Homo sapiens: one gene and its partners. The protein of the gene in region 6 purifies or fractionates together with the protein of the main gene of each other region. This does not show direct contact. Each region holds a gene or a part of one and is shown on either strand. Other genes may lie near its edges.

Region 1 (4,442 bases), on a different chromosome or scaffold from region 6:
ATAATCTACATAAATAACATATAAATGCAGAATTTAGAACGACATATTTAATTAAATGAACACATGAAAAAGTTTTTTACTGCCCCCTGCTGTCAGTTTCTTAAAGAATTATAGTAAAATTACTGTAAAGCTGACTCAAAGTGAATTAGTTGAACAAATTGGTCGGGGGAAAAAAATCGCCCACCTGTAATCACACCACTTTTCAGCCAGTAATGCTAATTTTTACTTCATGTGTGTGCACAATGAGGTCAGATTAAGAAACCAACACTAGCAAAGCTTGTGTTAGTGAGCAAAGGATCAGAGATACAGGGAAGTTTGTGATCTGTGAAATGCTATTAGTAAGAAAGTACCAGTGTTTCAATTCAATCTTTAGCCAGTGATGTCTACTTTACCATTTTTTTCCAAATCAAATAATTTTCAGTTAACTTTTTTTTTTTCTTTTTTTGAGACAGAGTCTCGCTCTGTCACCCAGGCTGGAGTGGAGTACAGTGATATGATCTTGGCTCACTGCAACCTCTGCCTCCCAGGTTCAAGTGATTCTTGTGCCTCAGCCTCTTGAGTAGCTGGAATTACAGGCACTCGCCTCCATGCCTGGCTAATTTTTTGTATTTTTAGTAGAGAGGGGGTTTCACCATGTTGGCCAGGCTTGTCTCGAACTCCTGGCCTTAGGTGATCTACCCACCTCAATCTCCCAAAGTGCTGGAATTACAGGCATGAGCCACTGTGCCTGGCCCTTGAGTTAACTTTTTAAATATTTATGTAATTTAGGTAAAGCATTCTGCATGAATAAAAGCAAAACTTCCCAGATAAATGAATATTCATTATTTGTGTAGTATAATCCTGACTTGTTATTTTCATTTTGCCATATAAAATTAAGAAATGAGAAATAATAAAGATAATAGGTAACACTACTGCAGCAGTTACTAGCTGCAAGGTACTGCTTTAATTTTCCCCATGTATTATTTAATCATAAAACAGAATGATGTAGGTATCATTATACTTCCCATTTCACAGATGAAGAAACTGAGTCACAGAGGGGTAGAGTAACTTGGGCAATGGAATCATGACTGGAAACCCTGCAGGGGGACTCCAGGATCTCTTTCCCCTTAACATTTTTGCTCAGGGGAAGGTATAAACTCTACAATGAAGTCAGAAGAATGTATAGAAATTCTAATGAACATGGTGGTATGAGTGCCTATTAACTCTAAGTGCATACTCCCTTCACTGTTATTTCTTGCTGTCTCCATGCTCTAGTGGCCAGAGCCTGTGTAGGAATAACGGGCAGACCTGCGGAGCTCCTGACTTGATTTATCTTTCTTTCTTAGGAAAGTTCTGCCTTCCTTCTTTGCATCACATTGAAGGGGTGTGTGTGTGTTTATGTTACTGAATATGTGCCTATTTAGTCCATGCCTGAGACTAGATTATCCATTTGGGGGATAATTTTTGTTTGGTTTTTGTTTCTTGTATATGAGAATCTTTTTTTTTTTTCTTTCCAACTTTTACATTCGGGGATACGTGTGCAGGTTTGTTACATGGGTAAATTACATGTTGCAGGGCTTTGGCATACAGATTATTTTGTCACCCAGGTAATGAGATTAGTACCTGATAGGTAGTTTTTTGATCCTCAGGCTTCTCCTACTCTCCCCCCTCAAGTAGGCCTCGGTGTTTATTGTTCCCTTTAATGCGTTATTGGGGGCTAATCTGAAGGTTGGCCTCTACACACTCGTGCCTTTCACTTCTAGATAGCAGCTAGTTTTAGCCATGCTTTCAACCGTCTTTAGCAACTCATATTCAAATATACACACACTTTTCACAGTACTTCGAGTAAATAAGTTTCACATCTTAAGTGTGCCTATTTGTTACTAGTTCCACCATCTTAGAGAACAAACTGTTTCCACTGCTCTTTGCCTTCTCAAGTCCTTTGCCTTCCTTCCTTAGCACAGAGGGTGCATGACCACAGATATATCAGGCCAGGGACAACTAGGACAACTCATAGTGGCGATTCTGGGCTGCTTCTCTCCTTGCAAGTACTCTACCTCAGTCTCCAGAGGGCTAATGACACAGGAAATCTTTCTTCCTCCCATATTAAAGTAACACCAAAGTCAACAAGATCATTTGCTATGCATAATACAAAAATTCATACCTGACTCGAGGAGTGGGGTTTCCAGTGACTCTACACTCCAGATAAACTCGGCTCCCTTCTGCTACTTCTTGGCTCCTCAGCTTTTGGATGAATCGAGGTGCAGCTGGGAAGTGGAGGGCGCTGTGGGGCTGTGGGTGAGACTTGCGGTTGTGTGGCACTGCCAAGTCCTGGTTGTCCTGGTAGCAATGCCTGGCCCCAGGGGACTTGACCTCTCTTTCCATCTCCCCTTGGTCTTCCATAGGGCTCTGGCTGGCTGAGGCACTCAGCAGGGCTGACGGCTGATTTTTAGGAGACAGGTACCCACTGTCTGGTGACGAGGACTCCCCATTTGGGCTTCTGTTTCTTGGCTTTGCGGCTTTAAATATGGATGTTAGCTCCTCAATTAAATTAGCTGCCTTGTCACACAGCTGGCTCTGGGGGCCACCCTTTCTTTGATGTGGCGTTTTGGGCTTTACGTTTGTGCTGGGAGTTTTTGCACCACGCTTTTCAGCCTTTCGGAGGCTCCGGATGTAGCTGGGCCTGGTGAGCAGGGGTGACATGGCAGGTTTCCTCTTTGAAACAGGTGAAGAGATACTCTTAGTTTGTTTCTCTGCCAGAGGCTGGACAGGTGTTGACCTGTTATCCTGAGGTCTCCTCGAGGCGTGTTCACCCAATTTGGTCTCCTTATGGGAAGGATGTTCACAGAGGCTTGCAGGAGAAGTACTGAAAATCTGCGAGATCTCCTTTTCCGAGTCAAAATCTTCTGTTTCGGAGTCGGCTATGGCTCTCCGGGCCAGGTCAAGACTCTTGTTTATCTCTTCCTGGCTGAGGAAAGCAGAAAGGCCCGGGAAGAAGTCAGTATTCTTGCTTTCTTCCTGCATGTCTGAGAGGGAGTCATAGAAGGACTCATGGGAGGAGGTCCCTGACATATTTGAACGGTCTTCATGCACTCTGTGTCTGCTTTCAGTAGGAAGGCCAGAGGCACTGGAAACTGTTTTCTGAAACTGTGTTCTGAAAGACAGCATAGAATGTCATTAGTAGCAATGATTTTTTCCCCATTTTAATCATAAAACTTGTAAGTCACAAATTGGGAGAAACATTAAAGTGAATGAATATAAGTTTTCTTTATTTTACAAGTTGGAAGAAATATCAAGTATACTTGTGTTGATCATTTTATGATTTTAATACATGCCCTGTGAGTGCTATCAAATATCTCACTAGGCAGTATTAAATCATTCAAAAAGATGATGTGTGCAGTAGGCACTATTAGTAGGATAGGGCTCACAGTCAGCCCCCCGCCCACCTTACTCAAACTCTAATTGATTAATGTAATGAGATCAATAGAATATTGATATTTTTAGTAAATCTGACTCTGATTATCCAACCCTAAACCACAAAATGCATTTTAAGGATTCCAATTTTCATTTATTTATAGTTTTCAGTGAAATCTTTGAAACTTTATTGTCTCCAGTTATGTGCATTCATATTCATTCACTCAACAGTCCAACAGATGGTAATAATCACTTATTAAATTTCAGGTGCTGGAAGTACAGCTGTGCTGTATGCCAGGGATGGGCAAACTTTTCTGGAAAGGGCCAGATGGTAGATACTCTTGACTTTGTGAGCTGTTCAGCCTCTATTATAATTACTCAACTCTGCATGAGCATGAAACCAGCCAAAGATGATGGAAATGAATGAGCATGACTGTGTGCCAATAAAACTTTATGGACACTCATATTTGAATTTTATATCATTTTAATGTGTTAAAACTATTATTATTTTGATATTTAATTTTTAAACAATAGTTTTAAAATGAGAAAAACATTCTTAGTTTGCAGGGCATACAAAAAGGGTTGGGATGGATTTGGCTCAGGGGCTGAAATTTGCTGACCCTTCATCCAGACTTACAGCACAGTTATCATGTTCAAGGAGTTAAAAGTCATGGGAGGTAGTAAAGTGGAGGAGATAGAGAAGATATTAAACAAATAATATGTTAATAATATAAAATTTTGATAAGGCTTTTAAGGAAAGTGAGAAAAACCTGGGGGCTATGAGAGTCTAATCTAATCTTAAAGGGCATGAGATAACTAGAGGCCTGGCATAGAACACTTACATGGGAATATCAGCAGAATTAAATAAAAGGTATTTCATTATCTGTAAGCTATTACAGCTTTAAATTCCACTGACATTTTGAACTTTATATTGTGAAGCAATGACTCCTTGTTACTCTAAGTGTGCCATTCTTTTGCTATATATTGTTCATAGAGTACTGAGAGGGACGATCTAGAAAACATCAGCGGTGATGTCTGCCACAAGACTG
Region 2 (4,442 bases), on a different chromosome or scaffold from region 6:
GAATTGTATAAATGGATAATAAAAATGTTCTTACCATTCAAATTTTTTAAAGCTCTTTCAGCATCTCTTCTATTCATAAAGGCCACAAAGCCGCAATTTCTCTCTCTGGCTCTTTCTTCATCAGTTCTAGGCCACATGATTTTCACACTGGCTAACGGTCCAAATCTTCCAAATTCTTGGCACAGCATTTCTTCATTCATCTATTAAAAAGGGTAAAAGATTTTTATTATGCAAAAAAGGGAAAAGAAAAAATTATTTTCAGAAAACAAAGTAGTTTTTACAAAATAAAAAGCAACATAGCAACGTGCTTCAATTTTCCATTTAAGTACCAGGAACGCCACACAAGTAAAATCCCGCGTGGGGCATTCATAAATCATTTCATACTATAAATATTCTGGTTTATTTAAGATGCCAGGGTGGGGAAGTTCAGTGGATGAAGAAATCAAAATCATTTTTACTCTCTATCTTCCTTTGTTTTAAGGTCCTGGATCTAAGTAAGATGTTTTATAGTGATGGTTTGTTTAGGCATTTAGTAACATTTTTCAAGCAGGCATGGTTAGTACATTTAAATTAAAGAGGAAATATGTATTGACAATGAAGAAAAAAAGTATCTAATCATCTGTTCTAACAATCAACTACCCATGTAATCAAATGCAGAGAAAACAGGTAACAGTATATATGCAAAATATAATTTTTAATAATAGCATATTATATACTACCGTTACTACATTCCCCATATCATAATTAACAGCACCAATGCAGGAAAAGAATTAAAATATAAAAGACAAACCACAAAGAGTAGTTTACTACTATGAGAAGAAAAAGGGACTCCACAAGGAAACAAGTATGCATCAGAAGTGGACAGTCTCAAAATAATATTATTCATCAATGGTCACACCCTGATTTAATAATAAAATCAGCACCTAGTAAAACATTTCAAATCCAGAGTTCAATCTAGTTACTGAAAGAGGAAACAAGAATATGTGGCAAGACAACCTGGGCCATACCAGTAAGACAACTCTAAAGACTATCCAATTCCATCAGATTTGTCAGCTTCAGAATCTTGATTTTTTTTGACTAACAAAGCTTTCTTCCAAAAGCATAAAGCATATCAATCAACATTCATCTTACTTAATATTACCTGTGGATTAATGTTTCCAAGGTATAAATTAGTAGTGCTTGGATCTCCTACATCATGTGAGCCAGGTGCGTAATCATCAAGAACTAGGGCAGAAAGAAAAAAAGAATTATAACCTGCAAAACATAAAGTTTGGAAAATTTATCGATTAAAAGAGCAAAAAACTGTATTACCACCAGATGATCTATTTCTTCTTGAAGGCGCGTCCACTTAAAGGGGAGAAAAGAAGACAATTATTAGTTTTTATAATACAGTAGTCCCCCCTTACCCTCACCTTTGTTTCCCCCAGTTTGTTACAGTAAGGTATTTCTGAGAGACAAAAAGAGAGACCACTTCACACAACTCTGTTGTTGTTGTTGTTGTTTTTTGAGACAGACTCTTGCTCTGTCGCCCAGGCTGGAGTGCAATGGCACGTTCTCGGCTCACTGCAACCTCTGCCTCTCAGGTTCAAGCAATCCTTCTGCCTCAGCCTCCTGAGTAGCTGGGATTACAGGCACGCACCACCACGCCCGGCTAATTTTGTATTTTTAGTACAGACAGGGTTTCATCATGTTGGCCAGGCTGGTCTCGAACTCCTGACCTTAGGTAATCCACTTGCCTCGGCCTCCCAAAGTGTTGGGATTGCACATAACTTTTATTTCAGTATATTGTTATAATTGTTCTATTACTTATTGTTGTTAATCTCTTACTGTGCCTAATTTACAAATTAATTTTTACCACAGCTATGAATGTGTAAGGAAAAGGATAGTATATATCCATGGTTTCAGACATCCACTGGTGATCCTTGGAATGTAACCCGCCACGGATAAGGTGGGAACTACTGTAATTAATCACAAGCATACACATTAAAATAAATGCCACTTACTAGAACGACGCTGACCATCAGAATCTGACTGAGGAGGTTCAAATCGACTTAATCTGCCTTTTGTTTTATGTCTCTCATCACGTTCCTCTTGAATTCTGTTGAAAATATTTACAATCACTTATAATGAGCCAAAATTTGTTCATTCACATTTCAGAATAGCGCTTATCAAATTACTATCATCAAATAACTAGAAATATCTGTAATTAAATACTGGTACTGATAACCAAGATTAGAGGGTCCCTCAGCTATAATACAACCACGAGCAAATTTCTGATATATCATACTACCAATGGAACACAAAGCCTACTTTAAAGGTGAGGAGGAAATTAAACACTAAAACCACTGAATTTGTTTCTTGCTAAGTCTAACTGCCCCTCACTCCCATCCCAGTGAGTATACTGTTTCCACTGCAAACAGGACTCTGGACATTAAGTAAATCAATTGAACTGAATCCTCGTAATGCAAGCAACCCAGGTGCTGGACTAAATGCTAATTTATTTTCAAAGATAGCCCACCAAATATTATAATATCTAAAACAATCTCATAGCAAACTGGTTAGTAATAACTAACTGGTACAGTATATTCTTTATACTTGCATCTGTTTATGTATCAGCTCAATACACCTATGATAGTTATTCTCCACACTATAAAACTTACTGCTTTAATTCTTCTTTGAAGAGTTCCAAATTGCTTTTTTTCTTTTCTTTCTCTCCTTTTTTAAGTGGCTATAAAGGATATGACAAGTTATACTTCAAACAAAAGGATAAGCAAAACCAATGATTCAATAATAAGAGCCTTTTTACATCATTTCAGTACAAATTGTATGTTCTAATTATTTAAATTAAAAAGGAAGAATGCTTTTCTTATCATTGAACCTCCCTTCCCCTTCCTTCAAAATAACAAACAATTAAATTATTACTACAATTAAACAATTAAAATGACAACCAGTAGTCAGGGAAATTAATGAACATGAAGTAACTGAACTGCCATGGAAAGTAACTGCCAAAAATACGCACTCTTCAAAAATCACCTCTGGAGGACATGAGTTACTGGAACAGTAAGTAACATCTTTGGAATCCTCTTTTAAAACTGCTTCTTAATCTACTTTTGGAATCCTTCTTTTAGAAGTGCCAACATAATTTAATAGGGAAGAATAATCTTTTCAACAAATGGTGCTTGGACAACTGAATATCTACATACAGAAAAATGAAGTTGGACTTCTACTTTACACCATATACTAAATGTACAAAAATTAACTCAAAATGGTTCATGGACATAAAAGTAAGAGCTAAAACTATAACACTTTTGGGAGAAAACCACAGGAATGAATATTCATAATCTTGAATTAGGTGATGGTTTCTTAGATATGACACCAAAAGCGTAAACAAAAGAAAAAAACTGATAAATTGGACTCCATTAAAGTTTAAAACCTCCATGCTTCCATCAAGAAAATGCAAAGACAACCCAGAGAACAGAAAACATTTCCAAATCATATAGCTGATAAGAACCTTGACTCAAGAAGATGTAAAATACTCTTACGATTCAACAACAAAAATACAAATAACCCAATTAAAAAGTGGGCCAAGTATCTGAACAGACATTTCTCCAAAAGAAACTTATAAATGGACAATAAACACATGAAAAGATGCTCAATATAATCAAGTACATGCAAATCAAAACCACAATGAAGTACAACTTCACACACACTAAAATGACTAAAATAAACTTTTCAAACAAAATAGTTTTGTTTGTTTGTTTGTTTGTTTTTGAGATGGAGTTTCGCTCTTGTTGCCCAGGCTGGAGTGCAATGCTGTGATCTTGGCTCACCACAACCTCTGCCTCCCGAGTTCAAGCGATTCTCCTGCCTCAGCCTCCCGAGTAGCTGGGATTACAGGCATGCACCACCATGCCCGGCTAATTTTGTATTTTTAGTAGAGACGGGGTTTCTCCATGTTGGTCAGGCTGGTCTCAAAGTGTTAGTGTACGACGTGAGAAAACTGGAACCCTCATACATTACTGGTGGAACTGTAAAGTGATACAACCACTTTGGAAAAACTGGCAGTTTCTCAAAAGGCTAAACATAGTTACCATGTGACCCAGCAATTCCACTTCTCGGTGTGTGTATATACATGTATCCAAGAGAACTGAAAACATAAGTTCACACAAAAAAAGCCCACACATGAATGTTTACAGCAGCATTATTTCTAACAGCAGAAAAGTGGAAACAATCCAAATGTCCATCTACTAAGTAATGCATGGATAAACAATATATGGTATGTCCATAAAATGGAGTATTATTCAACCACAAAAAGGAATGAAGTACTGATTCATGCCACAACAAAGATGCACCTTGAAGCATTATGCTAAGTAATGAAGCCAGATACAAAAGACCACGTTATATAATACCATCCATAAAAAATGTCCAGAATAGACAAATCA
Region 3 (4,113 bases), on a different chromosome or scaffold from region 6:
CAGCAAACACCCCTCTCACATTCCTATGGCAGACGCTGGAGGATGAAGGGCTGGCTGTTGGGTCTGTTCTTGCTCTAAGGCCACATCCTAGAAAAGCAGGGCCTGTCTGGGTAGAAAACATGGCCACCAAACCCCAACTAGTGACTGGATTTTCCAGCTGACATTCAGTCGACTGTCTACCTCCATCATCCTCACCTGATGTCTAAGGCTGCGTTCCTTCAAGGCCTTGTCCTGATTGGCAATAAAATAAGGAAAAGGTGTGAAAACCAGCATTCATGATGAAGTGGTGCCCTGGCAGTCCCCATCCTTGTCTGTCTGACCCCTGCAGCCACAGATGACGAGCAGACACTGGGCACACAAACCCTTCACTAGGCCCTTAACCAGCTCTGGTTCCCTACTCTGCACTTCTGCTAATAGCCACCAAGAAATTCAACCTGCAAATAACTTTGCATTCAGCTTATCCTGTGTGGGTCATTAACAGTGTTCCCATGAGAGACATTCTCAGCATTTATGAATGGGTCAGGAGGTTGGGGGGAGGATGGACTTCTACTCCAGGAACCGTGGTCAAAGGCCAACTCTTCTACCAGCCTCACTCCCAGAAACCCTAAATACTGTCTCAGCACTCGCTCTGTAGAGTTCAGCTTTGAAACATGCTATCACAGCTCTTCAGTGGCATTCAACTAAAAGGCAACATCTTAATTAGGCAGATATGCTCCAGGGACAAGAGCAAAACAGAAGGCATGAACGAGAGAGGAAAAAATAGAAAAGACACTGAATAGGAACAGGCAAACGGGCAAGGCAGACCAGATAGAGGCAGCAAACATGGGCCAAAACGCAAAACACCAAGTGGTCCATCAGCTCAGGCCAGCACGCCACCTTCTCAATTCATTCCAGAAAAATTAGCCTGGAGCCAGGGGGCGGCAGAGAGCACAGTGATTGGTAACAAAAATAGGAAGAGTTGGGTAACAAAATAGGAGACGAAAGAGATGTCATTCTAATCAGCATGAAGTGACCAGGGTGATGATCAGCAAGACACCAGGCAGCAGGAACCCTGTGAGGCACCAACTAGGTAGCCAAGTGTATCTAACGGAGAATCCAGGGCCTGACCACCAACACCCGCTTTGGCCTTCACCTGCCCTACGTCTGCAGCAGCACCTCTGGCTCAGACAATGAGCAATACAGAGTGTATCCTAATTCGTCTATTTCTTCAGGGGTGAGCTCTGCAAATAAGTTCACCTTGGGGTTTAGGGCACTGGGCAGGACTCCAGCCTCTAAGTAGCTGATAAGTCCCCTCAAGGCCTGCAGGAAACGGTCGGCCAGCATATCCGGAGACCAGTCAGCCTCCTCCTGGGCCAAGTGGAGGATGACATTGGTTAGCTGGCTGGCAGTGAGGTGGCCCAGAGCCGGGGTGGACTTGCATATGGCCTTGAGGATCTTGAGGCACAGAGATCGGCAGCCCGAGTCAGCCTGGTCCAGAGCCCGCAGGCGTGCCGTCTCCGCGGGACGCAGGCTCAGCCGCCACAGGTTGTCATACTGGGCTAGCCGGTGTGGTTTGGCCACCAAGACTGTGTCACCGAGGGTCACTGATGGCAGGAAGTCAATGAAGAGATGTTTGTCACGCTCATACTGCACCTCCAGTGTGAGGGCTTCTGGGGGTGGGGCCGGGCGGATCACATAGTCCAAGAGGGACCCTATGGCTGGCCAATTGATGGAGCCAGCCACTACCTTCTCAAATGTATCTGCGACTGTCTTTGGAGAGAGGTAGCCCCCTACTACACAGCGGTCCCAGTAACTGCTCCCACGAGGAAAGTACTCTGGATTCTCACGACGCACCAGGAAGAAGCCAGGGACATTCATGATGGTGTCTTCACCAGGAATACATGACCACAGGTTCTGCTCCAGCACAAGGGGCACAATGAGTTGGATGTGGTCAGCTGTCACCACCTGTCAGGGCAGAATTTAAAGGGTTTTGAGGGTTTACTCTGTTCAAAAGACATGCTTCCTCTAAGACGGTTCCCACCATCTTACATTCCCCCCCAGCAAGAATGGGAACTCTAGGCCGGGCGCAGTGGCCCATGCCTGTAATCTCAGCACTGTGGGAAGCTGAGGCGGCTGGCTCACTTGAGGTCAGGAGTTCAAGACCAGCCTGGCCAACATGGTGAAACCCCATCCCCTACTAAAAATACAAAAAAATTAGCCAGGCATTGTGGCGTGTGCCTGTAATCCCAGCTACTCAGGAGGCTGAGACAGGAGAATTGCTTGAACCCAGGAGGCGGAGGTTGCAGTGAGCCAAGATCGTGCCACTGCACTCCAGCCTGGGCAACAGAACAAGACTCCATCTCAAAAAAAAAAAAAAAAAATTCTTTCATGTCACCATGCAATCTACACAGAGTGAGAAAACTAGAAAGGAGAGATGGGCACAAGAATATAGGAAGGAGGAGGCCTCTTATAGCTTCCTAGAAGTTGTAAGTAGGACTAAAACATGAGAAACGATTAAAGACACAAGAATAAAGAATAACAGGCCAGGCTCACGCCTGTAATCCCAGCATTTTGGGAGGCCGAGGTGGGTGGATCACCTGAGGTCAGGAATTCGAGACCAGCCTGACCGGCATGGCAAAACCCCGTCTCTACTAAAAATACAAAAAAATTAGCCAGGAGTGGTGGCACACACCTGTAATCCCAGCTACTCGGAAGGCTGAGGCAGGAGAATCGCTTGAACCCAGGAGGCAGAGCTTGCAGTGAGTCGAGATCGCACCACTGCACTCCAGCCTGGGCGACAGAGTGAGACTCCGTCTCAAAAAAAAAAAAGAATAACAAGCATGGATCTCCAAATGCTGCTGAGGTACACAGGATTCGGAAGCTGTAAGACCTCAGTCTTTCTGGCAAGCCTGGGACACTGATCTGTGCCAACAACACTATGGTGCTCAGCACTCAAACCCCACCCACCATGAGAACCACCTTGTTACCTGCAGGTCATCGTAGAGGCTGCCACTCAAGTACATGTCCCGAAGCGGCATGTCAGGCAACTTGGCCCGCAGGAAGCTCCGGAGCTCGGCACATATGTCCACAGCAGCTTGCTTGGCCCGAGCCTGCTCTCCAGCAGGGATGGCTGCCCGGTTCCGGTAGTAAGTAAGAAGTTTCTCCTGCAGGGACATGCGGAGTCGTGACTTCTTCAAGTCTACCTGGCCCTTCCTGGCCACTGGCTTGGGCCGGGGCGGGCAGAATGTATCTGCCAAGGCAAGAGAGAGAGGCACGTGAGCTCTGCCCATGCCTGCTCAGTCCACAGCTGCCTCAGCCCCAGAAAGAAGGGCCTGGCATGGAGGGCAAGTGCTGGCACAGTGCCTGGCACAGATGTGCTCAGGAAACATCTGCTGAGTGCAGGAGTGGTACTGAAAGTCCAGAGAGGTCCCAGGAGGGGCAGCAGCCCTTCTCACCTGTGTCGAAGGTGGAGGAGTCTGTGGGAAGGGTCTGCAAGGACCGGCTCAGGCCCGTCTTCATGTCCCTGTTCAGCAGTCGTGGGGAGCCCATCCAGTTGGGTTCTTCCCAGCTCCTTTTCCCCGAATGGCTCAGGCGGGTGGGGCTGGTAGGGGCACTGATCGCCCGATCGTACATCTGAAATAGCAGAGAGGACACAGGACATAAACCTGCCCTCTTTCCCTATTTCCTTCCAATTTACTTCCTCCCCAGAAGCTCTGTCCTAGTAAGTTCTTTTAGTAATTTTGTTTTTATTTTAGATTATAGAATACTTTGCTCCACGCAGAAAATCTCAGGGAAGACTACATGATATAAGACATAGATAATCCACGTCATGACCCAGAGAAAACTGTTTGTAATATCTGGTATGTTTCTTTCTAGATGCATGTAATGACGATCACTCTATACATACTTTTGAAACCTGTTTTTTTCACTTATCATTGCGATCATTTCCTCCTAGAACGCTTCGACATTTTCTTTCTATAAAACATTACATCTTATGACCATACCACTACATTCCACCCCCAGCCCTGGCTGCATGCACTTACCCGCTTAACTGCCAGCGTGGCGATGCCCAGCATGGCCGCTCCACCCACCCCCAGCACCAGCCGGGCATTGGAGAGCACAAAGTCAATGGCC
Region 4 (4,442 bases), on a different chromosome or scaffold from region 6:
GGTGGAGGCTGCAGTGAGCCATGATGGCACCACTGCACTCCAGCCTGGGTGACAGACCCTATCTCAAAAACAAAAAAAAGTTCTTCAGGTCTCTTGGAGTCTTGTGTTGTCACAGATAACTGCTGATTTGACTTTGAGAGCTAACTTGAAAGTTAACATTTGTGAATGATACCTGAAATATTCTGAAACTCAATAAATGTGGGACAGCTCTGGCCAGGTGCAGTGGCTCACACTGTAATCCCACCCAGCACTTTGGGAGCCCAAGGCAGGAGGATCACTTGAGGTCAAGAGTTTGAGACCAGTCTGGCCAACATGGTGAAAACTCATCTCTCCCAAAGAAATACAAAAATTAGCTGGGCGTGGTGGTATGCGTCTGTAATTCCAGCTACTTGGAAGGCTGAGGCAGGAGAATTGCTTGAATCCAGGAGATGGGGGTTGCAGCGAACTGAGATTGTGCCACTGCACTCCAGCCTTGGTGGCAATGAGATTCTGGCTCAAAAAAAAAAAAAAAAAAAGTGAAAAAGTGGGACAATTCTGATCCATTGACAAAATTTCTACAGTTAGTGAACATATTCTGGAGAGCCTGTTGGGAAATATATTTTTTTTTTTTTTGAGACAGAGTCTCGCTCTGTCGCCCATGCTGGAGTGATGCGATCTCGACTCACTGCAACTTCTGCCTCCTGGGTTCAAGCAATTCTCCTGTCTCAGCCTCTCTAGTAGCTGGGACTACAGTCACATGCCATCATGCCTGGCTTATTTTTGTATTTTTAGTAGAGATGGGGTTTCACCATATTGGTCAGGCTGGTCTCGAACTCCCGACCTCAGGTGATCCACCCACCTCAGACTCCCAAAGTGCTGGTCTCCCAGTGGCGTGAGCCACCGGGCCCGGCCTGGGAAATAGTTTTTATGGTACTGCAGTTGTTACAGGGATGTCCTGTGTAGATTTTTTAAGCACAGGTAACTGTTTCTCTGATATTCTGAGTCAGTTTCTTGTTGTGGGATTGATAACAGTAAATTGTATTTTTCAGCCTTCAGGCTCTACACACAGATGATCCTCTCACTTGGGATTATGTGGCAAGGCGAGAATTAGAGATTGAGTCACAGACAGAAGAGCAGCCTACAACGAAACAAGCCAAAGCAGTGGAGGTCGGCCGGAAGGAGGAGAGGTGCTGTGCTGTGTATGAAGAGGCAGTGAAGACTCTGCCAACAGGTGAACTTCACCAAACCATGGTGTGATATAGAAGGAATAGTATCCCTGATTGTGAAACTTAAGCTCCTGTTCCCATTGCCAAAATCAATATTGGGGATGTCTCTGTAACATAGTTTACGATGAGCCTGGCCTTTTTTTTTTTTTTTTATTGGGAGGCAGAGTCTTGTTCTGTCACCCTGGCTGGAGTTCAGTGGCTCGATTTCGGCTCACTGCAACCTCCACCTCCCGGGTTCAAGCAATTCTCCTGCCTCAGCCTCCCAAATAGCTGGGACTACGGGTGCCCGCCACCATGCCCAGCTAATTTTTTTGTATTTTAGTAGAGACGGGGTTTCACTGTGTTGCCCAGACTGGTCTCGAACTCCTGAGCTCAGGCGATCTACTTGCCTTGGTCTCCCAAAGTGCTAGGGTTACAGGATTACAGGCGTGAGCCACCGTGCCTGGGTTTTTTTTGTTTTTTGTTTTTTTTTGAGACAGAGTCTCACTCTGTTGCCCAGGCTGGAGTGCAATGGTGTGATCTCGGCTCACTGCAGCCTCCACCTCCCAGGTTCAAGCGATTGTCCTGCCTCATCCTCCCGAGTAGCTGGGATTACAGGCGTGTGCCACGATGCCTGGCTAATTTTTGTATTTTTAGTACAGACGGAGTTTCACCATGTTGGCCAGGCTGGTCTTGAACTCCTGACCTCAGGTGGTTTGCTCACTTTGGCCTCCTAAAGTGCTGGGATTACACGCATGAGCCACCGCATTTGGCCGTGCCTGGCTTTCTAACTTGGTCTTGGCTTTCTAACTTTTATGACCTTCCTCCATAGTAGTGGTATTTATGTTCATCTATTTTGGGGGAAGCTTAGGAAATAATTTCTAAGATTCTTCAATTATTATTTCTTAATTATCTATGTTTTTTTTTGAGACAGGATCCTGCTGTGTCACCCAGGCTGGAGTGCAGTGGCGCAATTTCAGCTCACTCCAACCTCTGCCTCCTGGGTTGAAGCAATCCTCCCGCCTCAACCCCCTGAGTAGCTGGGTCTACAGGCGCATGCCTCCACGCCAGGCCAATTTTAATGTATTTTTTGTAGAGATGGAGTTTTGCCATGTTGCCCAGGCTGGTCTTGAACTGCTAGAATCAAGTGATCTGCATGCCTCGGCCTCCCAACTTGCTAGGATTACCGACATCCTTAATTATCTTTTTGAGACAGAGTCTCACGCTGTTGCCCAGGCTGGAGTACAGTGACACGATCTCGGGTTACTACAACCTCTTCCTCCCAGGTTTAAGCAATTCTCCTGCCTCAGCCTCCCGAGTAGCTGGGATTACAGGTGCATGCCACCATGCCCCATGGATTTTTGTATTTTTAGTAGAGATGAGGTTTCACCACGTTGGCCAGGCTGGTCTTGAACTCCTGACTTCAGGTGATCAGCCTGCCTCAGCCTCCCAAAGTGATGGGATTACAGATGTGAACCACTGCCTCGCCCTTAATTATCTTTGGAAAGTGATTTAATTTTTATTTTGTAATAATGTAGAATAAAGGCAGAGGGGATATATAACCTGGATAAGGCTTTCAATTTTTATATTTAAGCTGTTACTCAGTTGTTTTCCCCCAATATTTGAGGTGTTTGATTGGCTGTAGTCAGCATAACACTTCTTAAAATCAGGCTGATTTAAACTCTTCTTCAGAGGAGAGTTTTCCCCTTGAAGTAAAGGTGTAGGATGACTGTTTTTTTCCTTATCTTTTAATAACTTTGATGTGATGAATGTTGAACTAAGTGATCTGATCAACACAATCTTTCTGACTTTTCCAGAGGCCATGTGGAAGTGTTACATCACCTTTTGCTTGGAAAGATTTACTAAGAAGTCAAATAGTGGGTTCCTTAGAGGGAAGGTGAGGTTGTTACATGGTTACAGTGGTTGACTAGATAGTGACTGCCTTCTGAAAGAACAGAAGCACAGATCTTTTGGTGTCTGGCACAGTTTCTGAGAACTTTTATGTTTAGCCACTCTCTCTCTCCTTGTGGGTGACGTGACATTCTAAAGGTCTGAGTCTGGTTTGCCGCCAGGTTAGGAGGGGCTCTCGTGTAACTGGGCTCTGTTCGGTGCAGCTGCCCATTGCATCTATTCATAAGTGAAACCACCATGCAGGAGCAAGTCAGCTTCTTTGAATTTTAAGAAATGCGCAAAACTGCTTTTGTTCATGTCAGAGGCCAGAGGCCCCTGCTGGGATCTTTGTAATGAACTGAGGGATTTTTCTGTTTTCAGAGGTTGGAAAGAACCATGACTGTATTCAGGAAGGCACATGAACTGAAGCTTCTGTCAGAATGCCAATACAAGCAGTTGGTAAGAACATAGAGAAAATATTCTGTGCCAGTTACAAATACCTTATTCCAGTTGTTTTGTGCCAGAGTCATGTTTTAAATATATATAGTCTTAAGATGAAGGCCACTTGGGAGTTCGGTATGTGAAGTGTGTTTATATGTGTTTCCCAGTATTTGGCCTATGCAAAAAATGAAATCTGTACTAGCAAAGGGAGGAGTATTATACAGTGAAAAGCACTTAGAACAAGAGTCATGATTTGGGTTTATTTTGTTTGTCCACCCATTCCTTTTTTTTTTTTTTTTTTGAGACGGAGTTTCACTCTGTTGCCCAGGCTGGAGCACAGTGGCGCGATCTCAGCTCACTGCATCCTCTGCCTCTTGGGTTCAAGTGATTCTTGTGCCTTAGCCTCCCAAGTAGCTGGGATCACAGGTGCATGCCACCACGCCCAGCTAATTTTTGTATTTTTGGTAGAGACGGGATTTCACCATCTTGGCTGGGCTGGTCTCTAACTTCTGACCTCAAGTGATCCCCCTGCCTCGGCCTCCCAAAGTGCTGGGACTAAGGCATGAGCCATCATGCCTGGCCAAATTTTTGTATTTTTAGTAGGGACAGAGTTTCACTATGTTGGCCAGGCTGGTCTTGAGCTCCTGACCTCAAGCGATCTGACTGCCTCAGCCTCCCAAAGTGCTGAGATTACAGGCATGATCCACTGCTCCTGGCCGTGCCTGGCTTTCTAACTTGGTCTTTCAGGCGTGAGCCACTGTGCCCAGCCTAGATGATTCATCTTCTGTCGGAAGAAACATATCAAACCGTTTTGTCTCTTAGACTGGAGGCTCTATGGGTGGTAGGGAATGCATCTGATTTGTTCACTATTGAATCTAGCACATATAGTGTGCAATAAAAATGCTTGCTGAATGTACTGATTATATA
Region 5 (4,868 bases), on a different chromosome or scaffold from region 6:
TACTAGCTGCCCATTTTTAGACCCCAGCAAAGTCACCCATTCCTGGCAGAGATGACAGCTACTGTCTCCTATGCAATCTCGGCTTTCTCCCCTGCCGTCCCCCACCCCCATGTTCTGCACATGGCAGCCCAAGGCCCTGTAACACAAAAATCAGATTACATCCCTCTGATCAAAATCCCCCAACAGCTCCCATTTCACCTGGCGGTGGCCAAGAAATCCTGAGACCTCTCAGCCCTCATCCTCTTCCTTCTACTGCCATACTCTGCTCCAGCCACCGTGCTGGTCTGTGCCCTGCCACCTTGTCCAGCTGGATGACTCTTCCTCCACGAGTCTACTCGGCTCACCCCGACATCTTCATCTTTGCCCAAATATCACCTCTCAGTAAGGCTTCCTTGACCACTCCCTCCCCAGCTACCTTCTCTGCTTTATTTTTCTCCTGATGGATATATTTCCTTATGTGTTGCCTATTCTCTCACTAGAACATAAGCTGGGTGACAACAGACTTCATAAGGGAATGTGGCAATAATTCCCATGTGGCAACTGGAGTTGTTTCTCCACTCCAGTCCCTCCCCTCAGCCTCTCCACCATCCCACCAGCCCCCAACCCTGGGCCCTGTTTCTCAGCCCCCAGGATGTCACCACTTAGATGTTTCACAGGCCCCCCAACCAGCAAGGAGAAGAATGTTCCTGGCAAAGAGAAAAGGTGGAAAGTGCTTGAGGTCGCCCAAAACCTGAAAGGCAGTCAGTGCAACTGGAAAGCAAAAGCAGAGAAGAGTGGATGGAGAGGCTGGATAGGTGAAGCAGGGCCCTGAGGGTCAAGTTCGGAATCCTGCCCCTTCAGATCCATTCTCCCGCTCTATGTAGATGGCTGTCTCCTACCAACTGCCCCTTCCTCAAGCCTCTATCATCTGTTCCTCATCTTCACTTCCAGCTGATGGTCTGCTTGCTTCATTTTCCATCAAGAAAATAATAAAAAGTTGGAAGAGAACTTCCACAAACTCCCACCATACCTTCCCAACCATCAGTAACTGCCCCATTTCCACCTCCTCTCTTGATCCTCAGGATAAAAAACCCATGCTTCTAGGGAAAACCAACCTGTGCCCCAGGTCCCAAATCCTCTCTCCTCCTGAGACATTACTCAGTAATTGATCTGACACCCCCCCACCAGCAACTGCCCCATTTCTTTGGTTTCCTTTATAACCAAACTCCTTGACAGACTGCCTGAATTCACTGTTTCTGTTCCTCTTCTCTGATTCCGTCCAGCTCCCTCTGATCTGGCCTTCACCTGCTCCTCCTTCACATGCCATTTTTCACTCGGTTTCCAGTCCCCACTCATCTGCCTAACCTCTGGAAACTGTAGCACCCCGGCACTCGGCACTCAGACTCCTCTCTTATCCAGTCCTGTGGTTTTAAAAATCATCTATGAAAATGGTCAAAAAAATTTATTTTGGTGATGGCCATACAACTTTGTGAATATAATAAAACCACTGAATTGTACACATTGCATGAATTACATGGTATGCAAGTTATATATCAATAAAGTTGTTTTTTTAAAAAAAAAACAGAACTATACTCTTGACTCCTCCAGCGCAGACCTCTCTCCCCAGGGTTCTAGGCTCATTTATCAAACTTCCCAACCTATATCTCTGCCTGAAAATCTAATGGGGATCTCATCTTCCCCTCCCAAACCTTTTTTTCCCATAGCCTTCTCCATCATGGATGACAGCAATACCAAGTTCAAATATTCAGATCAACAACCTCGCATCACCCCTGATTCCTCATTTCTCTCCCACCTCACATCCATCTATCAGCAAATGCCCCTGGCTTTCCAAATCCAGGATCCCTCCTCCTCTCACCTCTGCCACTGCTACCAAATGGTCCCAGTGACCCACATCACATCTCTAGCCTGGATTATCCCAAGAGCCTCCTGACAGATGTCACCCTGCTTCTATTCCAGCCCCTACAATTTATTGTCAGTCGAGCAGTCAGTGTTCCTTTCCAAACACAGGTGGAACCATTGTCTCTCTGCTCAACCTCTACAATGGTTCCCCACTTCTCTCAAGGTAAAAGCCTGTCTTTTCCATGGCCTACAGGGAACCTACCCACTGGCTCTCATTCCTCTCTGACCTCATCTCCCACTAGTCTCCCTTTCCTCACTCCACTCCAAGCACATGGACCTTCTTGAAGTTGCTGGAACGCACCAAGTTGTCCCCAGCTCAGGGCCTTCACGACAGCTGCTATCTGTGCTGCTCGCTCCCTCACCTTCTTCAAGTCCTGCTCAAATAGTAGCCCCTTGGGAGGTCTTCCCCATGCACCCTATCAGATATGGCCATCCCACTCCCACCCTAGCACTCCTGACCCACTTTCTCTGCTTTATTTTTTCCATGCATATATCACATGACCTGCAACATGTATCCCATTTATTTGCTTTGGTTATAGTCTGTCTCACTCACTAGAATTTCAGCTTGGTACCTACATATAGTACGTACCCAGCAAAAAATGTACTCATCTGCCTAATCTCTGGACACTGTAGCATCCCAGCGCTCAGCACTGTTATTTAAAAAAATAACAACTTTGGCTGGGTGCGGTGGCTCACGCCTGTAATCCCAACACTTTGGGAGGCTGAGGCGGGGGGATCACGAGGTCAGGAGTTCGAGACCAGCCTGGCCAACATGGCGAAACCCCGTCTCTACTAAAAATACAAAAATTTTCCGGACATGGTGGCGGGCACTTGTAATCCCAGCTACTGGGGAGGCTGAGGCATGAGAATCGCTTGAACCCAGGAAGCAGAGGTTGCAGTGAGCCAAGATCGTGCCATTGCACTCCAGCCTGAGAGACAAGAGCAAGACTCCATCTCGGGGGGAAAAGAAAAAAAAGCTTTATTGATATATAACTTGCATACCATATAATTCACCCAATGTGTACAATTCAGTAGTTTTACTATATTAACAGAGTTGTATGGCCATCACCAAAATAAATTTTTTTGACCATTTTCATAGATGAACAAACAGAATTCGCAAACTGCTGCACCCCTGACTATATTATAAAACTCCTTACAGGGTTTTCCAAAGCTATAGGACCACGTGATATAACTCCCGTCCACTTCTGCCATCTCCCCGCCTAATCTCCCTCCACCCAAGCTGTGCTTTCCTTGGTTCCAGGAAAGCGACGAGCTTGAAGCTCTTTGCACATGCACATGCCCTGCTGTCTACCTGCAGTGCTCTTCCCGCGCACGGCCACAGGCCTGGTAGGCCGTCCGGTTAAGTACCCCTCCTACGGTTCCGATTCTACCCTGGCAGGACAACCCTAGCTCCTCGTACCTGGCGTGGCCCGACCAATCGTCTGCCACTCAGTTGACCTCTGACCTGTTAGTACCCGCCCCTGGAGCGCCGCATCCGGTAGCGAGAGTTCAACTTCCTGACTAGGAGCCAATCAGCGGGGCCGCCTCGCTGTCTACGACAAAGGGTGGGGCAGACGCTCCGTTTCCGGTGGCAGGGTCTGGGGAAGCGGCGGCAGGCGCCATGTCCGGCCGCGAAGGTAAGTGTTCCGGAACCGTGAGGACTGCGGGGACGGCGGGGTGGGGACCGGGCGGCAGGGGCAGGCCGAACGTGCTCGTGTCGCCCACAGGTGGCAAGAAGAAGCCACTGAAACAGCCCAAGAAGCAGGCCAAGGAGATGGACGAGGTGAGGGCGGGCGCGGAGGCACTGGCGGGTGCGGGGGCGCTGGGAGACAGGCCTGAGTTGAACACGCTCTGCCTCTCCCCAGGAAGATAAGGCTTTCAAGCAGAAACAAAAAGAGGAGCAGAAGAAACTCGAGGAGCTAAAAGCGAAGGCCGCGGGGAAGGGGCCCTTGGGTAAGTGGGGGCCGAATGGAGCTCAAGCTGGCCAAACGCTATGAGCACCTATTGGGATGAGGGCGCGGGCATGTCTTTTTCCTGCCTCCTGAACTGCGAGGTCTCGTTTTCCGACGTCCGCTGCAGCGAATGGTCTCTAGCCAGTCTAGGATTTGCAGCGGCAGTAAGGGCCGGGAGCTGGAAACGAGGTCTCCTGCCTCCCAGGCAGTCTGGGCTTCCATTCCTTAGGAAGAGCTGCAGAAACGGAAACAGTGAAATGTATTTACCTCAGACGCAGATTCACAGTTAAGTTTCTCAAAGTCTGACGTCGTCCGCAATCTTTTGCCCCAAATTCGTATTTCACTGCCTTCTAGTGTTTGAACCTTACTTGACTTAGAAGTTTTTTTGTTTTGTTTTGTTTTGTTTGAGACAGAGTCTCACTCTGTCTCCCAGGCTGGAGTGCAGTGGCGTGATCCCGGCTCACTGCAACCTCCACCTTCCGGGTTCAAGCAATTCTCCTGCCTCAGCCTCCCAAGTAGCTGGGATTACAGGCGCCTGGCACCACGCCTGGCTAATTTTTTTTTTTTGAGACGGAGTGCGGCTAATTTTTGTATTTTTAGTAGAGATGGGGTTTCACCATCTTAGCCAGGCTGGTCTTGAACTCCTGACCTCGTGATCCACCCGCCTCAGCCTCCCAAAGTGCTGGGATTGCAGGCGTGAGCCACCGCACCTGGCCAGTTTTTTTTTGTATTTATAGTAGAGACGGAGTTTCACCATGTTGGCCAAGCTGGTCTCGAACTCCTGACTTCAAGTGATTCACCCGCCTCTGCCTCCCAGAGTGCTCGGATTACAAGCGTGAGCCACAGCACCTGGCCAACTTTTTTTTTTTTTTCGTACTGCTTATATTATCTCTAATATATGCTTTTTTGCTTTCTGAGTCTTTTTACTTCTGGGTATGCCTAGACTAAAAGATAAAGTCCAGGCTCTTCAGTGTGCTGTTGCTCCATATGCTTTTCTAACTGAATCCTCCACCTTTT
Region 6 (4,442 bases):
ACAACTAGGATCTTATAAGGGCTGCAACAGAACAGAAAATAGTGTGCATGTCACATTAAGAGGATACCATTTCATAAAACCTTTGTTTCTGTCATATGTGTGTCTATGTGTGAGAGAGTATGTCAGTCTTGCGTAGCAATGCTAACTATATTTTTTACTATGATTTATGGTCTAAAAAGTTTCCAAAGCATTAATCTAGATAACCCAGGCCCTGACTTGGTTGCTGGCAAACCACCCAGAGTTTGAAAGTAAAGGACTCATCTAGAAGTAGGAATGTAGTGAATCTAGTTCAACTGGGTGTTAGGCACTAACACAAAACAAATACTTCTTAATATTTCATCCAGGAATAAATAACCGCTGCCATCCAAAGGCTCTAGAAAGCATCGTTTTACAGTTGCAACATGAGGTGCTGACAGTTTCACACAAGCATGCTGCTTTTTCCCTAATGCGTGCTTTCCTCCACTTGAGATTTTAGGATGATATGGTTGCAGAGACTACTTATCTAGTCACTACAGAAGCACATCACAGTACAAGAGTCATAGCTAGGAAATCTAACCCCCTCCTTTGCCAGATGGACAAACTGAAGCTTAGAGTGATGAAATGCCCCAGGAAATGCCAAGGTCAATGCAGAGTAGAGCTGAGATCAGACTCCCAGTTCTTTTCCAAGAATCCTTAAATTAAAGGCACAGGAGACCATAAAGTAGCACTCCCTGCCAAGAGACAAGGAGATGACCTTTTCTTTTTTGGTCTTACTGGTTAGTTTCTCATACTTCTGAATTAATTTTTACTAAGGACTAAATAAAATATTTGGATGAAGAGGCTCCCTGCCCCGAAATACAAAAAATTTTTTTAAAGAGAAGACTGCTTGCTGAAGTTGCACAAGGGGAGTTTTTTTTGTTTTTTTTTTCTCTGTTAGGGAATTTCTAGGTTAATTGTAACACTCTCCTTGGGAGACCTACTCATATAAAAATAAAGGAGTGTGATCTCTTTTTAAATTCTTTCTATTCTGCCAATAGTTGAGAAGAAAAGCTTGGTATGGTGGTCAGTCTCTTCTAAGTATATACTGTACACAATTTAGTTTAGTGTTACAGATATCAACAAATCACCACCTGCAGTAGTCTTAAATCACAATCTACTTATTGATTTCTAAATGCCACAAAGTGTTTTAATTTTCCCCACACTGTTATTTCTAATGACATCAAGATGATTCTCCATGCTTTCTCAAAGCCAAATGCAAAGTGAAAACAGACAGCCAGAGAAAGATGCTGTGCAAGTAAAAACTCACATTTCCTTTTCTAAAGTTTTGGTTTTGTTTGTTTGGAAAAGGCCATCTCTCTAAAGTTTATTCTAGCTACTTAAATCCTATGATTTTTACCTATATTCCTTTTTCAAAGTAAGTTTAGCAGCACTTGAGGTGTAAGACAGCTGGTCAGGATTTCAAGATTTAAAAATTACTCATTTTAAGAGTGTCAGAATTGCCATCCTAACTTTCCCATAGCATTGCAATATGTGGATGAATATATACTGATTAAGATCTGTGAGGTCCTGGACAGACTCTGGTTTAATAATATAAAAACAGGAAATTCAGAACTGTCAGGAGCTCTGGGATCACTTGAAGCTAATCCTCCTCTAGTAAGCCTCCTCAAATAAGCTTTCCCATAGTGATCTTTCCTTAAAAAGTCAGTCTATTTCTGACCTTTGGAAACACAGAGGCAGCCTGTTCCCAGAAAGATTTGCTAGCATGAAGAGTGCTTCATGTTTTGAATTCGGAGTAAAGGTCTAATTTTCCACAATCATACAGGACAAGTTCCCTCTTTGGGACCTTGAAATCCACAATTATTACCACCAAGTGATGAGTCTCAAGTGCGCAGTGGAAAGTGTATTAATTTTATGCTATTAGAGACTTCACACACTGAAAAATTAGTTTAGATGGGTTCTAATTTTGCTGACTTCAGAGCGCTCACTCCCTCACTCTGAAAAGTCCTCAACTTTCAGAACTGTGCTTGGCACTATAAAACTTTGATTTGCATTTCTTAAGAAAATTGTGCAAATGTTATAAAATACATGGTACATAAAACTCTATCAGGAGCTCAACTGAACTGCACCAAGGTCTAATTATCAAACTAATGGTTGAAGCAGAGAACTGGGATAGTGTAATTTCATAATAAAAAGAATTAATGGTAAATGAACCAATACTATGAGGATTCATAAGATGAAATAAAATTTTAACATATTTTTTTCAGGAAACAGTCAAGTAGTCATGGCCACTTCGAATCATAGTAATTTAGAGTCAGGAAAAAAAGGCCCTCGAAGCAGAAAAAAAATCCAACCCCCTCATCCCAGCCCCTTCCCACTCCCATCCCATATTGTATTGTTGATTACCCTGGCCTAAAGCAAGCTGCTAAACTTCTCTCAGGCTCAACTTAAATACCTTTGCTGACAGAAACTCACAAAATCCTCAGGTCCATTTCAATTCAAAAAGGTGATCACCAGTCATTGCTTAATTCATTCAAGGAACATATAATGCATATCTCCTTTGTGCTAGGCATTGGGGATCAGATCTCCTTATTTTGGGATTAAAAATCTCACCCCTCTCTTAACAATTGCTTGTGCTCTGCCCTCAGGACTTAGAGAGAACACAGCAGGGCCTATGTTGTATAAATTGGTCCTGAATAAAGTCAGAATATAGAAAGGCAGTTCCCCATATCGCCCTCCCCAGTAACTTTCTTCTCTATAGTTATCTCTCCTACAGCCTCCTTCTCTACACCTTACCACCAACACAGGCCTTTTTATCCAGAAAAAGAACCCTGAAATCTTTCAACCAAAGGGTTCAGTAATTTTTGCTATCAGAGTCACTCCTCCTGCAGACACTAATTTCCAGATTCCTCAAAATGTGAGGACACTGAGTGCTGAGTTCTGAACTCAAGCCAATTGGCTCCGTTGTCCACCCTTAATCAGGACATTCTAGTGCTTCTTAATGAATGGGAGTTTTCTTGCCTCCTCTATCTAAAATGCCCTTTCCTCTACAGGAAAGGCTTTTTCACAAGAACTCCTACTCACCCTGCAAGACCCATCTGTAGAAGAGATTGTTGGTCTTCTCTAACCACCACAAGCAGGAGGTTCATTGGCAACCCCAGAGGACAATGTTTGTACCTGTTGTTAACTCCTAGGAAGGGAATGATTTCCTATAATTGCCTAAACGAAACTATCAAGTTACTGAAAGTCTCTGTATGAATGCTAAGATTACTGACTTGTGTTGATATGCTTATAAAGAACTTATGAAGATACAAAGGTCTGCATGGGACTGGTCCCACCTGGAGAGAGGTCCCTCCTGGCTTTCATCACTTGAAGAGGCTGCCACTAAACAAAGGAGCCCCTGCTAAGCTGCTGACTAAACATAAGTCTTGACCAAAACAGAGCAGAGATGTCTGAAAGGAAGCTCCTAGGCAGGGAATGCTAAAATGGCATTCACTCAGAAAAGACAGTCCAAAAAGAAGCTGGGAAATGAGGTATCCAAAATATCAAAGTTTGGTATGCCCTTTGGGTATATAATCTAACTACAACTAAAGCAAAGACAGAATCAGACAAGGGTGGGGAGTTCCTGAAACAGGCTCTGTATTATGGTAGCACCAGAAATCTTTATTTGTAAATCAGATTGTTTTTACATTTCTTCTATTCCTTTATATTTCCTCCATTAATACTGAGTAAAGTTCAAGGCTGTTTGAACTCTGCTAAAAGGAACCTGAAGGCAAGAATTTTTATCCACTCTTGGGCTTGAAGATTTGAGTATTATCAGGCCATTATTGAGGGCAGTTTGAGTCAAAGAATCCTCCAACGGGAGGTAAAATTTAGGGGATAATACAGATTGTGGAATCCTGCCATTCTTCATCTGAAATTCTCTTTCCAATACTAAATCTTGGAAGTAGTAGTTTTGTTTTTATTAAGCAATATTCTTCTAAAATTCCTGCACTAAATTGTGAGCATCTTGAAAGGACCTTATCATTTTCATCATTACCATGTATGCATGTGACTGGAACACAGTAAGTACTCAAATGTTTGTTGACGGAATAAATGAAGCAATTCATGGACTTTCAGAGTTTTGAAGTACTTTAAAGTCCACCTAGTCCAGTACTTTTCCTACAAGTGTATACTTGTCCACATAAGCCTTTCATAGGTCATCATATAATTCACTCAACAAATATCAACTAAAAGTCTACAGTAGTTAAGATGCTGTGCTTTCAGGAACAGCAAAAAAACAGATCAGTCACTGATACAACAAACGTGTATTGAGGACGTATTGCATGCCAGGTACCATGTTAGGCCCTAATGATGATACAATGAATAAGACACACAAAGCTCCATAGGGAACTCACAGAAGAGAAAATAAAATGGACATGAAGTATATACTGTATAACACCGTTTAAAATGGAAAATGTTAAGTG
Region 7 (4,442 bases), on a different chromosome or scaffold from region 6:
GAAATTGAACAGAGGCTATCAGAGTATATAATGGACTTCAACTTAGAGTTCACAGTCAGAGAAGGTATCTCGGAAGACATTATATGTAAGTTGGGACCAAGGAGTGAATGAGTTGTTCTCTGAAAAAAAAAAAAAAAATGAAAAGTCTGCAGGAGCAACATGTGCCAGTGAGCCTGAGGTAGGAAGAGTGCTTGTGCATTTGAGAAACTGAAAAAAAGGCAAGTTTGATTGGAACATGGTTCAGGTTCAGAATGAGAGATATAGATAACAGGTAAGTTTTATCGTTTAGGCTTATCATCAATTTGTTTAAATGATGATGAGCATGATATGATGGAGATGTTGAAGGTGGAGGCACAATTTGAATTCTTGCCTTGCCATTTACTTACTAGCTAATTTGATCATAGCTAGTCATGGGCAAATTACAAATTCTCCGGGCTTCAGTTTTATCATCTGTAAAGTAAAGGTAGTAAATCCTTGCCTGGACATGTGTTCAGTCAATGTTTGTTCATTCATGCAGTAAATCCCCATTGTGAGGGAAGTTTAAGTTATTTGGTATATTAAGATAATTTAGGATGTTTTAATATATATTCTTTGACATTTTGTGTGCATTCCTATATCCATACACATGTATATATAGTATGATTTTCCTGTGCACTATTATTTAGGAAGGAGGAGTCAGTGGTTTTCTCCATGCTTTTATTGCTGAAGTGTTTGCAATGGTGAGAGCTCATGTTGCTGCATTAGGAGGGAATGCTGTTGTCTCCTACATAATGAAGCAGTGTGTCTTCATGGAGAATCCAAATAAAAACCAGGTAAGATGCAGTTAAAAATTCCTGATTGGCGGGAACCTGAGAATTTCTTCCATGGCTTCCTACCCCTAACCCCCTCCAAAAGAGAATTGCTCTTTAGAGCCCTTTGAGTCTAGATGCGTAAGATATTTTAATGAGTTTATTCATAACCATGGTCATACATAGTCACAAGTCAATACATGCTATTTCGACATCTCAGGTAACTAGGGTATTATTCTTAATCACATCTGGAATTTGTGCTCCTGAGTTACTGTTTCCACCCTCTTGTTGGTAGGTGTTTAGAATACAGTGATAGCTAACTGAGGAGAGCTAAAGATATCCTTTAGTTTGGACTATGATGCTGTCCAGTTTCAGCTGCCTTACTAATGAAGAGTATATCATAGTAAGGCCATAGTAAGGCTTGCTTATTTCTAGTAAGTAGTGTTATTCTCTTAATGGGGATGAAAGCAGTTAGTTTAAATCTTAAAATAAATTTCTAAATTTTGTGTTAAGATAATTCACTTAAAATTGTTAAAATTTTTTAAAAATTAATCAACTATACTAAATAGTATGAAATGCCATAAAGGCAGTTCTTCCCAACCTGCTTCTCTTGGCACACATCAAAAATCCTATTTCTGTGGTCCACTGGTACACTGTGATGAATGCATGAAGCTGTATGTGGCTGCTGGTAATTGGCCCTGCGTTTCTGACCCAAGTGACTCCCCTAAGAGCAGAGGGGATCAATATCTTGGCAGACACAGAGCTTAAGAAGCTCTAATATAGACTAATTACTTATCATTTAAGCAGGAGTAAGAATGAATAGATGTGTATATGTATATATATTTTTTGCCCCTACCTGTACATCTAGATAATTGTAACCAAAGACAAATCATTTAAATTCTTAGTATCATTTTTTCATTAGTAAAATTATCTTATAGTGAAAGTGAGTTGCTGTCATAAATATATAAGCAGTTTGAAAAGACATTATGGAAATGCAAAATTGTTTTAGCTTTATTTAAGAGATAGGGTCCTGCCATGTTACCCAGGCTGGACTTGAACTCCTGAGCTCAAGCGATCTTCCCACCTCAGCTTCCCTAGTGGCTGGGACTACTGGCACATGCCACCACACCTGACTGGTTTTAGTTTTATTTTGAAATCATGAAGTTTAATCAGTTTCTTCAGAAGGGTACTTCATTTACTAAGTTCTTTTCAGGTTTTCTTGATAGTTTATACATTTTTGTAACTCACGGTATACTAAACTTCATTAACATGTTGAAGAAACATAGTGATAAACAAAACTATGAGACAACCTTCTGATAAATTTTGGCAATGGCTAAGGCACGTTAGAGGGGGAAGGGAAGCTATGAAACATCCTAGGAGGGTTTTTGGTAGATAATTGGGGCATATCTAAAAGCTCAGTGAGGCTACTGCAGTTCTGGATTCGCAGCTAGCTTATTGATAAGATTTGGCGTGAAGGAGATTGTGTGGAGTGGTCAAAAGGGGTACATGGGGAGAAGAAAGATTGAGAAAGGAACAGTGAGAAAGGCGGGAGGGAAACCAGGAGGGCTGCGAACTACCTCTACACGGATCGTTTGAAAGTAGAAGTAGAGTGGAAACCAGGCACATCCTGAGCAGGAGTATTTGATATCACTTGATATTATCTGGTCGTAAAGAACGCATCTATTAGATCTTGAAATTATATTCAACTGGATACTTCTTTGTAATAATTTATTTGATATAAGAGGATTTTCCCTACTTTAAGAATCCTTTTTTGCTTAATTACTTTGTATTTGAGATTGAGATTTGTAGTTTTGGGTTTTTCCCAGTGTTAAATTTATACAACTTGTTCACTGACTTAACTAGCACCTTAACAAGTGCCTCAAAATCAGCTTATCCAGAACAGAACTTATCTCTATGCCTCAGTTTTCTCATCTATAACATTGGGATAAAAATTGGGGAAATCATGAGTTAATATATGTAATGTGCTTAGTGCTGGTGGATTGTAAGCACTGTAAAAGTTGTTACTATTATCTTTTAAATGTTTGTCTTCAATGATTTCTTACAAGACAAAGTCATGCTTCTTAATATGTCATACAAGGTCTTCCACATTCTCAAGTCTTCTACCTTTTCAGACTCATCTGTTGCCCCCCTCACCTCTCCTAACATGCCCAAGAGGTAGATTGCATTGTTTGGTTTTCCAAATGAACTGTGCTTTTTTTTTTTCTTTTTTCATTTCTAGTACTTTGTAGTGTTGATATTAACTCCATTTTGTAGGTGAAAAAAACTGAGGGCTAAAAAACTTAAGTTTGGTATGAGGCTATAAGTAGAAAAGCTAGAATATACCCAGATTTTCCACCACCAGTCGTCTTCCTCTGTACCCAAATAATAACTGTCAATGGCTGATTACCACTGATGTGTACACATCATATCAGGTGCCATGATTTATGTCATTAGCTTTTTCCCCCACTTTTATGTGAGATCTTGCATATACACAAAAAGTGTAGAGAATTGCACACAGACATTCTTACACGTGACCCTCAGCTTAAGAAATAAAATATTAAAAATATGGTTGAAGCCTCAGTGGGCCTGTTTTCTCTTTATAATGAATGAACCATCTTAATTTTGTTGTCATTCCTATGCATGCCTTTATATCTTAAAAAAATTAATTGTAGTTTTATTTTGTATCTAAAATGTTTTAATATATTTTTGAATAGGTAGTACATGATTCAAAATTCAAAAAGGTATGAATGGAAAAGTCTCTCCTTGTCTGCTGTTCCAGCCAGTCACTTTTCTTCCCCACATGCAACCAAATTTTTCATTTTTTTTTTTATGGTAACTTCTAGAGATGTAACACTCCAGAGTGTGTAACCAGAGAGATTTTATACATACAAGCAAATATATATAAATATATATTCTTTTATCTCCCAGTTTAATATAAGTGGTAGCTTTACAGTACATATTGCTCCTCAGCTGTCTCTTTCACCTGCTTTTTCTTGGCAACATTTTCATTTCAGGACATAAAGACTACCTTTATTGTTTGTTACAACCACATAACACTCCATGGTATAGGTCGATCGGAATTTCTTTAATTAGTCCCCTGCTGATAAATATTTAGGTTATTTTCAGTAAATGTTGTGCTAATACATACAGTGCTACAAAAACAATGTGATGCATAAGTGATTAGCACAAGTGTGAGCATCTCTGTAGGGAAAATTTCTTAAAACAGAATTGCTAGGTCAAAGTAGTACCTTTGTAATTTTCATAGAGATTTCCAAAGTTCCCCTTCATTGAGATATTTTGCATATTCTTTATATAAATATAGAAGGATATATATAATTATGTAAATGATTTTATATTGTATATATCATTTTGCAAATTGTTCTTAATTTATCATAAGATTTACCCATATTGATTGAGCTTTAGGTCATTTTTCACTTCCATATAGTATTTCAGGCATGAATATTCCACAGTTTATTTTCATTTCCCTTTTGATGGGCATTTAGTTTGTTTCTAGGATTTTGCTAAACATGATGCAGTGAAAAGTTACTTATTAATCTTTGTTGCATACATGTCCAAGATTTCTCTAGGGAACACATATACATGGAATTAATGGGTCAGGGAGTGTGTTCTTTTTCTGCTTTAGGAGACGGTTCT

What was found.
Region 1: the proteins of WDFY2 (region 6) and PALLD purify together in Homo sapiens (affinity purification with mass spectrometry; 3 studies listed by BioGRID and IntAct, with this or other methods). This does not show direct contact.
Region 2: the proteins of WDFY2 (region 6) and U2SURP purify together in Homo sapiens (affinity purification with mass spectrometry; 3 studies listed by BioGRID and IntAct, with this or other methods). This does not show direct contact.
Region 3: the proteins of WDFY2 (region 6) and MIEF1 purify together in Homo sapiens (affinity purification with mass spectrometry; 3 studies listed by BioGRID and IntAct, with this or other methods). This does not show direct contact.
Region 4: the proteins of WDFY2 (region 6) and UTP6 purify together in Homo sapiens (affinity purification with mass spectrometry; 3 studies listed by BioGRID and IntAct, with this or other methods). This does not show direct contact.
Region 5: the proteins of WDFY2 (region 6) and CCDC51 purify together in Homo sapiens (affinity purification with mass spectrometry; 3 studies listed by BioGRID and IntAct, with this or other methods). This does not show direct contact.
Region 7: the proteins of WDFY2 (region 6) and C2CD5 purify together in Homo sapiens (affinity purification with mass spectrometry; 3 studies listed by BioGRID and IntAct, with this or other methods). This does not show direct contact.

Annotation. Positions count from the first base shown.
Region 1 is NC_000004.12:168,510,114-168,514,555, reverse strand, and holds part of PALLD (palladin), read right to left. Parts: intron 3,134-4,442; coding exon of another isoform or gene 3,052-3,133; coding exon 2,144-3,051; intron 1-2,143. UniProt on the Homo sapiens protein: Cytoskeletal protein required for organization of normal actin cytoskeleton. Roles in establishing cell morphology, motility, cell adhesion and cell-extracellular matrix interactions in a variety of cell types.
Region 2 is NC_000003.12:143,018,255-143,022,696, reverse strand, and holds part of U2SURP (U2 snRNP-associated SURP motif-containing protein), read right to left. Parts: intron 2,729-4,442; coding exon 2,661-2,728; intron 2,099-2,660; coding exon 2,004-2,098; intron 1,348-2,003; coding exon 1,312-1,347; intron 1,225-1,311; coding exon 1,142-1,224; intron 201-1,141; coding exon 35-200; intron 1-34.
Region 3 is NC_000022.11:39,511,348-39,515,460, reverse strand, and holds part of MIEF1 (mitochondrial dynamics protein MIEF1), read right to left. Parts: coding exon 4,023-4,113; intron 3,613-4,022; coding exon 3,435-3,612; intron 3,230-3,434; coding exon 2,967-3,229; intron 1,945-2,966; coding exon 1,138-1,944; 3' UTR 232-1,137; coding exon of another isoform or gene 88-231; 3' UTR 1-87. UniProt on the Homo sapiens protein: Mitochondrial outer membrane protein which regulates mitochondrial fission/fusion dynamics.
Region 4 is NC_000017.11:31,877,341-31,881,782, reverse strand, and holds part of UTP6 (U3 small nucleolar RNA-associated protein 6 homolog), read left to right. Parts: intron 1-1,028; coding exon 1,029-1,210; intron 1,211-3,001; coding exon 3,002-3,081; intron 3,082-3,455; coding exon 3,456-3,533; intron 3,534-4,442. UniProt on the Homo sapiens protein: Part of the small subunit (SSU) processome, first precursor of the small eukaryotic ribosomal subunit.
Region 5 is NC_000003.12:48,436,777-48,441,644, forward strand, and holds the start of CCDC51 (mitochondrial potassium channel), read right to left. Parts: upstream 3,344-4,868; 5' UTR 3,212-3,343; intron 1-3,211. Other genes in the region: TMA7 (translation machinery-associated protein 7), read left to right, coding at 3,521-3,536, 3,627-3,682, 3,765-3,852.
Region 6 is NC_000013.11:51,587,228-51,591,669, reverse strand, and holds part of WDFY2 (WD repeat and FYVE domain-containing protein 2), read right to left. Parts: intron 1-4,442. UniProt on the Homo sapiens protein: Acts in an adapter protein-like fashion to mediate the interaction between the kinase PRKCZ and its substrate VAMP2 and increases the PRKCZ-dependent phosphorylation of VAMP2.
Region 7 is NC_000012.12:22,450,266-22,454,707, reverse strand, and holds part of C2CD5 (C2 domain-containing protein 5), read left to right. Parts: intron 1-665; coding exon 666-812; intron 813-4,442. UniProt on the Homo sapiens protein: Required for insulin-stimulated glucose transport and glucose transporter SLC2A4/GLUT4 translocation from intracellular glucose storage vesicle (GSV) to the plasma membrane (PM) in adipocytes.